2 linked regions of the Homo sapiens genome follow. Changing the gene in region 1 together with any one later gene gives a genetic interaction. Each region holds a gene or a part of one and is shown in the gene's direction. Other genes may lie near its edges.

What was found. Genes that interact genetically often act in the same process or in processes that back each other up.
Region 2: of EIF2AK2 (region 1) and PRKRA, changing one enhances a phenotype caused by changing the other (phenotypic enhancement), as found in Homo sapiens cells (one study listed by BioGRID).

Annotation. Positions count from the first base shown.
Region 1 is NC_000002.12:37,132,948-37,139,980, reverse strand, and holds part of EIF2AK2 (interferon-induced, double-stranded RNA-activated protein kinase), read left to right. Parts: intron 1-223; coding exon 224-350; intron 351-1,395; coding exon 1,396-1,472; intron 1,473-1,617; coding exon 1,618-1,711; intron 1,712-2,963; coding exon 2,964-2,998; intron 2,999-4,434; coding exon 4,435-4,497; intron 4,498-7,033.
Region 2 is NC_000002.12:178,441,172-178,448,204, reverse strand, and holds part of PRKRA (interferon-inducible double-stranded RNA-dependent protein kinase activator A), read left to right. Parts: intron 1-618; coding exon 619-700; coding exon of another isoform or gene 701-749; intron 750-2,669; exon of another isoform or gene 2,670-2,779; intron 2,780-3,704; coding exon 3,705-3,783; intron 3,784-4,820; coding exon 4,821-4,938; intron 4,939-6,500; coding exon 6,501-6,595; intron 6,596-7,033. UniProt on the Homo sapiens protein: Activates EIF2AK2/PKR in the absence of double-stranded RNA (dsRNA), leading to phosphorylation of EIF2S1/EFI2-alpha and inhibition of translation and induction of apoptosis.

The DNA of each region.
Region 1 (7,033 bases):
GCCTGGAAAATGCAAGCTCAGATGTCAGCTGATCCTGGGTATTCAGAGAAATTGGTCAGGCATGTTACTGAGGGTTTAAATTATGCAAGATATGAACTATAAATCTATCTAATAAATTGGTGTTATCTTAAGATCTCTGTTAATATGTTATTTTTTTTGAATCCTAAGTTGGATTTGCTATATTTTTCATGTTTGGATAAGTACCTTCTATGATTTCTCCTAGATTTCATTATAAATGCAAAATGGGACAGAAAGAATATAGTATTGGTACAGGTTCTACTAAACAGGAAGCAAAACAATTGGCCGCTAAACTTGCATATCTTCAGATATTATCAGAAGAAACCTCAGTGGTACGTATTGCCTTTGGATTAAATTTTTATGTTTTAAAATTCCCTCTGAAGTTGACTTGAGGTTAGACTGTGTTAACATTATGCCAAGACAGCCAGTGATTTAGCAAAATGATTCCTCCATTCTGTGTCGTACCGATGAGCCATGCACCATGGGGCCATGAGGCCTCAGAGGGATAAAATTTCTGGTGGCAACTCAGGGTAGTTTTTAAACTCCAGGCTGGGCTGGGTGTGGTGGCTCACACCTGTAATCCCAGCACTTTGGGAGGCCAAGGCAGGTGGATCTCCTGAGTTCAGGAGTTTTTTTTTTTTTTTTTTTGAGATGGAATCTCGCTCTGTTGCCCAGGCTAGAGTGCAGTGGCACGATCTCGGCTCACTGCAACCTCCGCCTCCCATGTTCAAGCAATTCTCCTGCCTCAGCCTACTGAGTAGCTGGGACTACAAGCGCCTGCTACCGTGCCCGGCTAATTTTTTATTTTTAGTAGAGATGGGGTTTCACTATGTTGGCCAGGCTGGTCTTGAACTCCTGACCTCATGATCCACCCACCTCAGCCTCCTAAAGTGCTGGGGTTTACAGGCTTGAGCCACTGCACCTGGCCGAACTCAGGAGTTTCAGACCACCTGGCCGGGGCAACACAGCAAAACCATGTCGCTACAAAAAAAAAAAAAAATTAGACGGGTGTGGTGGCATGTACCTGTAGTCCTAGCTACTCAGGAGGCTGAGGCGGGAGGATTGCCTGAGCCTGGGAGATGGAGGTTGCAGTGAGCCAAGATTGTGCCACTGCACTTCAACCTAGACAACAGAGCCAGATCCTGTCTGAAAAGAAAGAAACAAACAAAATATCTGCCCTGTGATCCAGAAAAGTAAAATAAAAAATAAAATAAAATCCAGACCAAACATCCAAAAAATGTTATTAATCTTGTAATTGTTTATGGTTGTGGATTTGGTAAATGTGTTGAAATAAATGTGATAGTACATAGAAACTGAGCCTCTGTAGAGAAATAATTAGTTGTATTTAAGCCTACTAAGGGATACTTTTTCTTTCAGAAATCTGACTACCTGTCCTCTGGTTCTTTTGCTACTACGTGTGAGTCCCAAAGCAACTCTTTAGTGACCAGCACACTGTAAGTGTAGACAAACAATTGAGATACTTAACATATTCATATTTCTGTCTGAAAGACAGATTTTTATGTTTAAGGAGAATTTAGGGAAAGAAATAAGTGATAAAAACAGAATTAATAAACTAATAGTTACACCCTTTTCTTCTAGCGCTTCTGAATCATCATCTGAAGGTGACTTCTCAGCAGATACATCAGAGATAAATTCTAACAGTGACAGTTTAAACAGTTCTTCGTTGCTTATGGTATCGTATTAGTCTCGAAGCTTCCTACTTAATCTTATTTTTCTGTGCGTTTCCTCATTTAAAAATAACTTCCAGTATTCCACCATAATTTTTATATTTTTTATCTTATGCACTCTTACTAAATGATAATACCTCAGTAGACTTTTTTTTTTTTTTTTTTTGAGATGGAGTCTCCCTCTGTTGCCCAGGCTGGAGTGCAGTGGTGAGATCTTGGCTAATTACCACCTCCACCTCCTGGTTCAAGCGATTCTCCTGCCTCAGCCTCCTGAGTAGCTGGGATTACATGCGCGTGTACCACACCTGGCTAATTTTTGTACTTTTAGTAGAGACGGGGTTTCACCATGTTGTTCAGGCTGGTCTCGAACTCCTGACCTCGTGTTCTGCCCACCTCGGCCTCCCCAAGTGCTGGGATTACAGGCATGAGCCACCGCGCCCGGCTCGGCAGCTTTTTGACTTTTTTTAAAATTAAGTTCCATTCCTTACCCTTCCACACGTCACTTCTGTCTTTCCTCACTCATCCTTATATTTTAGTATATTCCTATGATTTTGCTTTTCTCTCCTACCAATGGGATAATATTTAAAGATTCACTAATATAGTTCGTTTCTGTTTTTAAAAATTAGAATTAAACTTAAAAGTAAACTTGAAATCAGATAATTTTTTAGGCTGGTGCAGTGGCACATGCCTGTAGCCTGCAGCACTTGAGAGGCCAAGGTAGGAGGATCGCTTTAGCCCAGGAGTTTGAGACCAGCCTAGGCAACATAGTGAGACCCTCATCGCAAAAACAAACAAACAAACAAAAACCAGACAATTTTTTTGTGCACATAAGCAGGCAATGTTGAACTTAGAGCAAAATCCATGCTTTTGGTGATTAGTGTTACAAGAGTATTCTGTTATAAAGAACTACAAATCAATAAGAAAATGGCAAGCAGCTCAGTAGAAAAGTGTACAAAATGTATAAACAGATATTCAGAGAAGAGATACCCAAATGGGCAACAAATATTAAAAGCTGCTTTACTAGGAATCAGGAAAATTTAAATCAAAACAATTAGATACTATTTTAAACTCATTAGATTGGCAAAAAGTTAAGTCTTACAATACTAAGTGTTGATACAGGGCTTGATGAGAGTACAGACATTGATGGACTAAGAAATTGGTCAGAGAGCCATCTAGATATACAGGAGGAAGGAAAACGGGAAAGGAAGATGACTGATTTAGTCATCTGAAACTATTTCTCATTTTCTTTTGTTATAGAATGGTCTCAGAAATAATCAAAGGAAGGCAAAAAGGTGAGTATCATTATGCATTGAACATATTTTGATCTGAAGTTTTATTTCAGACTTATTTATTGTTCTTAATACTTGTAGAGTATTGTACACCCTTATTTGAGCAGAGTTTCAGAAGCAGAAAGCTTGAAATCTATAAACAAATAATTTTAGATGTGTCGAGAAATCTTTGACTATGTGCACATGCTACACTGTAAACATAAAGCACTTTGGGGGTATCGCTAGAGTAATTAGGTTAAGGGCATTATTTTGTACAAGACTGGCAAGGAATTGGGCTGTTTTCACTGTAGAAGTGTTTTCAAGAGAAGTGTATTATTTTGCAGACAAGTAAGGTTAAAATAGCATAAAAACTTGGATTAAAAAAAGGTCAAATGCTATGTCAATTAACTGAAGAGAAAGGCAAAGATGTAAATATAGTCAGAAATGACAGTAAGATGGCAGTAGGAGCCATTATGAGCCACCAGTATATTCTGAGCAGTAGATAGATGTATTGAAGAAACATGGTTCTTGATGTGGATGCTTGGATGGAGAGAAGAGAGTTCTGCACATGAGGTGCCCTCAGCCACGATTACTGTGGCAGTCAGGAGGGATGAGGAGAATGTGTGAGAAAGACTGTAAAGGAAGAGTGGACATGACTTGAGGGAATAGGTTCCCCGTAGCTGAGTGAAAGCATGAAGGAGAGGTAAAGGAGAAAGGATTTGAAGATTGCTTCACTTTGAACAGGATGCAGTCAAGAACCATGGCACTAATGGTGTTAAGGAAGTTAAGGAGTTAAGGGCTTAGAGAGAAGACAGCAGTTTGGATATGTTTAGTTTTAGGTGGTATTTAAACTTCCATTTGCAGGTGGCTTATCATCAGTAAGGAATAACAGCTAGGATGAGGGTGTAAGGAGATGTACTTCCTGAGGTTTTGAGTCTGGAGGAGGAAAAGGAGAGGTTAGTGACGCATCAACAATGAGCACTCTAAGGTGGAAAAAGGAACCAGAGGAGGGATGAAAAAGTATTAGAGGCCAGAGGAGAACGGTAAGTATATAGTTTTATAAAGAAAAAAGTTGGCTGGGTGCTGTGGCTTGCGCCTGTGATCCCCAGCACTTTGGGAGGCCAAGGTGGGAGGATGGCTTGGGTCCAGGAGTTCGAGACCAGACTGGGTAACATGAAGAGACCCTGTCTCTACTAAAAATAAAAAGAATTAGCCAGGTATGGTGGCACATGCCTGTAATCCCAGCTACCTGGGAGGCTGAGGTGGGAGGATCTCCTCTGAGCCCAGAATTTCAAAGTTGTAGTGAGCTATGATCACACCACTGCACTCCAGGCTGGGAGATGGGGTGAGACCTTGCCTCTGAAGAAAAAAAAAGAAAGAAAAAGGTTAACATTAACACTAAATAAGTTATATTTGATTTCAATTTTATTTGAGTTTTACATTCAACTCTTAATTTTTAGATCTTTGGCACCCAGATTTGACCTTCCTGACATGAAAGAAACAAAGTATACTGTGGACAAGAGGTAAGATTTTAAGTGCTGAAGAAAGAAGAAGGGGTAATGCTGTCGGTGGATGTTTTTGGTAGTTGTCTGTGAAATGGCCATGATCCTGTCAGTTAAAAATATTTGAATAAGATTAACTACGCAGGGTAAGAACAATAGTCTTAGGCTTATCATTAAGAGGGGGCCCAGGAATGGGATGACCCATATTATGATTTTGTTCCCAAACCAAGAATCTAGTTGGTTGTTTTGATACTCCCTTAGCTTTTTAGCCCTTTCTTTAAGTTTTTCATCAGCGTTTCTTACTAGGCCCAATTGGTTGAGATAAAAGCAACATTCCTCACCCAATGAGAGGCAGAGGTCCCTTTTTTCAGCCATTATTAGATCTAGTCCCCATCTGTTTTGGAGGACTACTCCAGCCGAGGAGTCTAGTTTGTCTTGGACTCTTATAATGCTTCAGGCTATATCTTCTAAAGAACCCTGTAATTCTGTGGAAAGAGCTTTAAAGTATGTTAAGGGAGTGGCCAATCTGCCTGCTCCCAATCCAAGTCTGGAGGTTATATCCAAGGCAGCCATTAAAGGAATGACGTGGATGGCCCTCCTCTTCCTAACGTATTGGATGGATGGAATGGGCAAAGGTTGGCTAGGAGGAATTAGTCCAATGGAGGGAGAAAGATAAACTAGGGTACAGGTTCCAGTCCAGTTAGTGGGGAGACAAAGATATGTGTTGGTGCCACTCACACAAAAAATAAGCCTTTGTCATAAATACAGTTGGAGATACAGAAAGAAAACAAGTGAATTAAAGATGGGTGTTTTTTCTTTCCTATGGTTCATTACTCCAGGTGGTCAAGGAGGAGGTCAAGGAGACACCCACTATAGTAGCGATATAGGAAGAGTTATTTTTTACACATTTAATACGATTTGATGTTGCACCATTGCATTGATGTTGAGCCATGGATAAAGGTGGGCGCTAGGGGCAGCACAAATTAGGCCAGAGGCATTGGTTGAGGGAGAGGCTGCAAAACGAACAGGTTGCAGAAATGCTCCATTCGTTTCAGGTGATACTTGGTAGTCAACTCGGTTAGTTTGATGGTCAGCAGGGTGTTTAACAATGATAATGCGGTTGCATTGGTTAGGTTTAAGGATCTTACACGGAAATTTCCCTCAGAGGCTGAAAAGCAAAGTGAGGCTTGTTGTAAAAGTGGGGTGTGTTTAATTATGGGCCCTTCAATGGGAGGGCCTTGTGGCTTAAGGCGTTGTAGGGAGTTGTAATAGGTTTGAAATAATGTGTTGGCCTGATTGACCTTGGAAGTGGGATAATCGCCAACCAGACTGTCAGCTCTTTCAAAAAAGGAAGCTCCTTTTTGGAGTTTATAGATTAGGGTTACGTTTTCTGTTAAAAGGTCATGAAGGGGTGTAGGAAGGGATGTATAAGCTGAAGAAGACAGCGATAAACACATCCAGCATTCTGGAGCAAAGGAAGAGTTAGCTTGCAGCAAGAGGGGTTGTGTAAGGTTTATAGAACGTTCTAGTTTGATAGCAGTGAGGAGTGGTTGTATCGGTGAGGTTGATGTGATTAGGGAATTTAGATAGAAAGAAACAACAAAAGGAGGAAAAAGTTTGGGTAGGAATAAAGTCCTGGAAGGTTCCTTGAAGCCATAAATCCCGTGGAATAGTAAGGAGCTGATCAGGATGTATAATGAGAGTTTCATAAGGATACCACTGAAGGTCTGTAACAAGGCTAGTTAGGAAGCAATGAAAGTTTGGGAGAGAAAGAGACATAGCTGCTTAGGTGAATTTCTCTTCCTTTTCCTCCGGCATTCATGTGAGATGAAGGGAAGTGGATCCTGTGGAGACACAAGAGAGGCTGAAGGTGGTTTAGATTTGATTGTTTGGATGTGTAGTGAAGGGAAGTCTGTGTTCTTGAGAGAAGTATAATGAAACCAGCTGGGGAGTCCCTGGAGCTTTGCTGCTGTGGGTGTAGTGAGGAAGATCTGGTAAGGCCCCTTCCATTTTGGTGTGAGGGGGGAATTGGGGGTAGGGCTGGGACCTTTTACCAGAACCCAGTTTCCTGACTGTAGGAAGGGATTAAAGGAGTTGTATTTTGTCAGCATATTCCCAAATGAAATGGCAGATGATATGCAGAAGAGGAGAAATGAGAGGGGTTGTTAGAGGTGGGGCTTGACCCTGAGGTGGAACAAAAGGAGCATGAGTTCAAATACTTATGCTCAAAACTCCCATACATGAGTTCAAAGGGGATGAGCATTAAAGGTTTACGTGAGAGTGCCCGAATTTTTAGGAGGGCCAAAGCTAGAAGTGTAACCCAGTCTTTATGTGTTTGGAGTGAGTACCTGGTGCGGGTGATTTTTAGAATGCCATTCATTTTTTCAACCTTTCCTGAAGACTGGGGTTGATAGGGGATGTGTAGCTTCCAGGTGATTCGTAGGGCTTGTGCAAGTGTTTGAGTAATTTGAGAAATGAATTCAGGACCATTATCAGATTGAAAAGAAGGAGGCACCCTGAACCTGGGGATGATTTCTGTTATTAATTTGGAGGTGAC
Region 2 (7,033 bases), about 140 Mb from region 1:
TTAGCTACCCATGCAGAAGATACAGACCGTCCAGAAGATACATAACAAGCTGTCACCTTATTCCATAAAACTCTTTCCTGTTGTACCCAACACATAATCATGACTGCTCAGCCTAGCAAAGCAGTTTGATACGTTATAGGACAGGCTGTCAGAATAAAATTATGCACATTTTGCTATCAAACAATTCTGCTGTAAATGGTTCCTTTAAAAGAAACTTCTTGCTGCAGAAGAATTTCCCCTCCAGGAATAAAGGAAGAGTAAAATACTAATCTGCATTTCTTCAGAGGTGTGACACGGTCTACTTTATTACCATGTTATATAATAAACATATATAATGTAGAAATAAGGATTTTTATGCAGGTATGCATAGAATTATATAGAACTTTAAAAAGTTATTTTTTAAAATTTTTTCACATGGTGAATATTTTATTACAGTATATAACCATGTAGTATATAACATGTACATATTTTTATGTACAGTATATAACGTACATATTTTTATTACCTAGTATGTGTATGTAAAATCTATAGTGACTTTGTTTTGTGTATTGAAAACATCTTTGTAAGCTGCACATTTTTGTGGGAGATAAAGACTTCTTTTTTTAAATCTTAATTCAGGTGAAGGTACAAGTAAGAAGCTGGCGAAACATAGAGCTGCAGAGGCTGCCATAAACATTTTGAAAGCCAATGCAAGTATTTGGTGAGCTAAATTTCTTTGTATTCAGCAGCTCAAAAATATCATGGCTGAGGTAAGATTAAAAATTTGAACATGCTTACAAAAGCAACAAAGTGAACAGTTGTTAGCATCCTACCTCTCAAATTCTATTTCCTTATGAAAACTTATCATCCATTAAAGAAAACTTTATCCAATCAAATCCAGCAATTAGCTATTAAATGAAGGTGCTCATGAACTAGGCTTTACTGTTTTTTTTTTTTTAATGGGATACAACAGTAGAAAATCAGTGCTTCTTGCAAATATTAATATTAACATTTTGTATTTAGACTTTGATTATTTCTACATTGAAGAAAACAAAGTGTGAGATGGAGAAAGATCCACTAAAAGTACTCTTTTGGGAATTCTAATTTTGAAGAAGCAGGCAGAGGTTTTCTTTTATTATATAATGTATACCAAAAGAAGAGAATGTTAAGTGGGATATTAATTCTTGACATATCTTTCTAAAGTAAGATTTTTTTTTTTTTTTTTTTTTTTTTGAGACGGAGTCTCGCTCTGTCGCCCAGTCTGGAGTGCAGTGGCGGGATCTCGGCTCACTGCAAGCTCCGCCTCCCGGGTTCACGCCATTCTCCTGCCTCAGCCTCCCAAGTAGCTGGGACTACAGGCGCCCGCCACTACGCCCAGCTAATTTTTTGTATTTTTAGTAGAGACGGGGTTTCACCGTTTTAGCCGGGATGGTCTCGATCTCCTGACCTCGTGATCCGCCAGCCTCGGCCTCCCAAAGTGCTGGGATAGATTTTTTACTACTTTAGGTGTTTCTAGATAGAATATTGGTCCTGGAGCATCTCACATATTAAAGTAGTGTCCACTGGGTGCACTCTGGAGCTTGGCATGCTTTCAAGTTCTTCTTGTGCATACACTTACATATGCCTGAAGTACGATCTGTGTAATCAGCTTATAGTTGACAGTAGAGACCCAGGGAATTTGGGATGGGTTTTTTGTTCCCTAGTCATAGAAAGGCTTTTGGATTAGGGGTGTAGTTAGGTTCTCATGTAGTATTCCTCTCTTTTTGTAAATCATTCTAAACCGTTTGGGTAGTTTAGAACTAACCAGTGACATGGCAACCCTCTAGATAAGCAGCTGCCCAAGACAAGCCTTGCATTTCACAAGATGATGCTTGATTCTCTAGGGTCATGCATTATAATTGATCTATGCCAGGCTGGGCGGGGTGGCTCACGCCTGTAATCCCAGCACTTTGGGAGGCTGAGGTGGGTGGATCACTTGAGGCCAGGAGTTCAAGACCAGCCTGGCCAACATGGCAAAACCCTGTCTCTACTAAAAATACAAAAATTAGCCAGGCATGGTGGCAGGCGCCTGTAATCCCAGCTACTTGGGTGGCTGAGGCACAAAAATCGCTTGAACCCGGGAGGCGGAGATTGCAGTAAGCTAAGATTGTGCCCCTGCACTCCAGCCTGTGAAACCCTGCCTCAAAGAAAAACAAGGCCAGGCATGGTGGCTCACACCTGTAATCCCAGCACTTTGGGAGGCCAAGGTGGGCAGATCACTTGAGTCAGGAGTTCGAGACCAGCCTGGCCAACATGGTGAAACCTCGTCTCTACTAAAAATACAAAAAATTAGCCGAGTGTGGTGGCACGCTCCTGTAATCCCAGCTGCTTGGGAGGCTGAGACACGAGAATTCCTTGGACCCAGTAGGCAGTGGTTGCAGTGAGCTGGGATCGCGCCATTGCACTCCAGCCTGGGCGACAGAGCAAGACTCTGTCTCCAAACAAACAAAAAAAAGACATGCCAAATGACATGGCAGGTATTGGGTTCTCCCCCACTGGTGATGGCCATGCTGTTTCTGTATAGCCTGAAGGTGAACCCAACCATTAAGTACATTTGTAGAAATGAGGGGTATGGAGTGTCCTTTCTGCATCTTGGCACTTTGTCAGCAAAAAAAGCTAACAAACTTTACTATATTTGTGCTTCTTGACAGATAAAATGGGAATTACTAAGCTGTAATCAGGCCTAAAGTGGCCTGACTTAATACAGAGACTTTCTCACTTCTCCATCACAATTATTTGGGTAGCTTCGGCATGCAGCATTGTAAGTGAATACTCATATCTCATCAGCCTATGTAAAGCTTGAAATTCTCACAGTTGGAAAAAAAAAACCTTGAGGAAGTGGCAATAACTAAACCTCATTTGTCATGGAAAAATGACTCCAGTTGCCTAGGTGGTACTAACCTTGAAATGCCGCTTATTCAGTTTTAAGTACTGACCTGCTAAGTAACTAGTAATTCCAGACTCCCTAGAAGAGGTTGTTCTCTTTTTCCCTAATCATAATCCCCACTTGCTAAAACCAAATTCATCTAAGCCATCTATTTTCTGCAGGATACATGTAAATCTTAGAGGATTATCCCAGCACTGAGCAGATGATAGATCAAACAGATCTCTCTTCATAGTTCTGTGGATGAAAAAACAGTATTTACACATAATCTGTATTATTCACATTGCCAGGCTAAATTTTCTGGATCATTGTTACTCTTCTGTTTTTTGTATAGTTGTAACAGAGTATTCTTTAAATACATTTTTATGGCATGCCTATTATGTACAAAACACCACAAAGCTTATGTAGGTAAGTGATACATAGGCCCTACCTCAAGGAGCTTACTGTCTGAACAGGGGAGAGGTGTGGTGAAGGATGGACAAATTATATGTATTTGTAAGAGTATATAATTTATGGTAAAACAATTTCAAGAAAGGATTAAACCATGTGTTATAATGTTTCAAAGAAGGGAGAGATTATAAACCACTGGGGTAAAAGGATAGGCTTCTTGGAGGAAGTGACATTTGAGATATATCTTGGATGACCGATCAGATTCCCATAGAAGAGGTCTGAGAAAAGGGCATTCCATGTAGAAGGAATGACAAGAGCAAAGACATAGAGAGTTAATTAGAAAATGCTTGTCATTTATTTCATAATTCGGGGGAAATTATTTTGTTTTATAACACTTTTAAAAAATATTTAGCTTTGCAGTTCCTGACCCCTTAATGCCTGACCCTTCCAAGCAACCAAAGAACCAGCTTAATCCTATTGGTTCATTACAGGTAAGTTGTACAGTTCTTTGCCTACTGATGAAATATATAATAAGTTTGTAATGTCAGAGGGGCTAACACAAGGAATTAATATTTTAAAGACAAGATAGTGATATATTTTGTTTTCCAACTTACGATCATTAGATTAACAGAGCTAACTTGAAATTATTTTCCTATTTATGTTCTGGGTTTTCTTTCATATACAGTATTTGCCTTTGGCTTATAGAATTCTCATTTAAGATCAACAGGCCCTCAGTGCACATGGGTAAAGTGTTTTATACTTTAAGAATAGTTCTTGCTACTCTTGTGACAAATCTCTTTCTACTTCTGTTGAGACAGAAGACTTTATAGAGAGCCTAAATCAAATCAGTGAACCTAACTGAAGAAAAGGAGTCTATTTGCTTATTCTACCAAAAAAAAAAAATTTTATCTATACACACACAAACACACACACATATATTCAGCTTTGAATTTCTATATGCAGAATATCCTTCTTGCAGATTATCCATGTGCTCTGTTAGGCCATTTCCCTCCCCATTATTCAGCCAGTCCTTTGGTCTCCTTTTCCTGCACAGTGAGCTTTTCTATAGTTTTCTTCACCTTCTGTCCCCCACTTTATGCAAGTCTGTTGTTTGCTGTCCCTACTCCTCATGTGTTCTTGGCCAGCTGTGGGTTTGGAAGTCTATAGCTAGGAGGGGAGGGACTTTAGGAACTGATGGCAGTGAAACCTGTAGATGGTCTCCTCTGGTGTTGCCAAAGAGGGCGGTAGTAGCCTGTTTTTCTAGTTGATGTCTGATACCAGCTCACTGTGGTTTAATGCAAGAACACCATTCGTAGCACAAAACTGCTTCAGTTTTGGTATTGGGGTATAAAAATATAAAATGCGGGAATGTCTTTGAGAAATAGAGGGTCTTCCCTCTTTTTTCTGTTGCAGAATATCACTATTCTTTTCAAACATATACATAGAAATGGGATCAAAATTAAGAAAACACTTATGTGATTGAGCCATTGCATAAAATTACTATTAAAGCCTCATCTTGATTTTATAGGAATTGGCTATTCATCATGGCTGGAGACTTCCTGAATATACCCTTTCCCAGGAGGGAGGACCTGCTCATAAGAGAGAATATACTACAATTTGCAGGCTAGAGTCATTTATGGAAACTGGTACTTATTTCTTACAATTAAAGGCATTTGAAATATTTTCAGATGATGAATGACTATCGAAATTTCTGTCGTAATGTTTTCAAATATTTCTATGCAGAAAAATTGATACACTCCTCTTTTATTGTCTCTGACTTTCTGAGGTTGAACTTAAGTATAAATATTTGGCTTAAGATACTTAGTCTTCTTAATTTGATATTTTTAAAAATCATAGATTATTAATAGAAAGACAAACTGTTGGCTCTGTACTTTAAACAGTCTTCATTGATAAATTACTGACTTAAAAAACCTCAATTTGGAGAAAAAGCTATAGTAAATCTCTTGGATTTTAACAGCTATTCTATCTAGAAAATAGGACTAGAGGAAGATTACACTTGAAAATTATATGATTAATAAGAGACTACATGGCAAATAATTGCAGTGAGATAAAAATGAAAATTATCTTTCTTAATTATAGCAACTTCTATGTTATAAAGGATATAAACTATAAGAAACGCTGTCACTTTAAAAAGTACTAGCGAGAATTCCTGTTAACTTCTCTGGCATGTTTTTGTTATTTTCAAAAGTGGCTTAAAATGGGATTTTAGCTTAGCTAGATAATAGTTTCAAGTAATAAGAAACTATTTGCCTTTGGGAGGTAGTGTGGCCAGTACAGAAAGCACCAGGCCAAAAGCAGGAACCTCAGCTTCCGTCCTTGATGCAGTCCTTGATTCGCGAAGTTAAGCAAATTACTTAATTTCTCTGGACCTCAGTTTTTTAATCTATAAAACAAAAGCATGGAGGTAGATATTTATGGTATCTTTCAACTCCACCATCCCCTGTGCCTTTCTTATTCCTGTTAAAAGGAATTTCATATAATCGTCAGTTTAGAGAAGATCATAAGCAGGAAATAGACATTGAGAGAGAGGAGTTATAATTCAGATGTATTTTAATAAATCTAAATAATTGGTCAGAATTAAACCAAATATGGTTCAGTAATGCTAGACATAGGAAAATACAATTATTATAGAAAAACAGAAAGCATAACTATTAAAGAAAAACTTAAAACAAATGTCTTCAAAAGTGTAAGAATTAGTAACTATACAGGCCTGGCACAGTGGCTCACACTGATAATCCCAGCCCTTTGGGAGGCTGAGGTGGGCCGATCATATGAGGTAAGGAGTTTGAGACCAGCCTGGCCAACATGGCAAAACCCTGTCTGTACTAAATACAAAAAATCAGCCAGGTGTGGTGGTGGGCACCTGTAATCCCATCTACTTGGGAGGCTGAAGCAGGAGAATTGCTTGAACCCAGGAGGCGGAGGTTGCAGTGAGCCAAGATGGTGCCACTGCACTCCAGCCTGGTGACAAAGTGAGGGTCCGTCTCAAAAAAAAAAAAAAAAAGAATTAATAGCTATACAAACAAAATAGCATAACAAACAAAGTTATCAGGTCAGTAAGAACATAGTCTAGTATATAATAAAAACCGTGAGGTTCTCTGATTAAACACAGTACTTCATACGTTTGATCATCCTCTGTGGACACTAATTTCTTTTCTAAATCTACCATTTCTTTTTCTTTGTTCAGGAAAGGGGGCATCAAAAAAGCAAGCCAAAAGGAATGCTGCTGAGAAATTTCTTGCCAAATTTAGTAATATTTCTCCAGAGAACCACATTTCTTTAGTGAGTAATGTTGACAGCTATGATGTTAATGTCATTAAGCATTTCTTGCAGTAGGAAACTTTCCTTGATTTCTTATTCTATAGCTACTTCAGAGTTGTGATTTTTAGAAATCTCTTCATTATTCAGTTATACCCTACCCCATTTTTAGCTGCTTCCTGTTTGTGAGTCAGGATCACAGAGGCAATTAGGTAAGAGAGCTTGGGAGACACAGTCAAATTCAGAATAATAGGACGGGATCTAAAGATGATAGGCCAGTAGTGCCATTTTTGCCTTCAAAGTGACAGCGCATTTCCATCCCTTTGTTTGTTCATTCATTCACTTAGCAAACATTTAGTGAGCTCATACTGTGTGCTAAGTGTTGTGTTGGGTACTGGGGTGCAGTGAATAAGCAGTCCCTGCCTCTAAGGAGTTTATAGACTACTGAAAGGAAGGAATTCT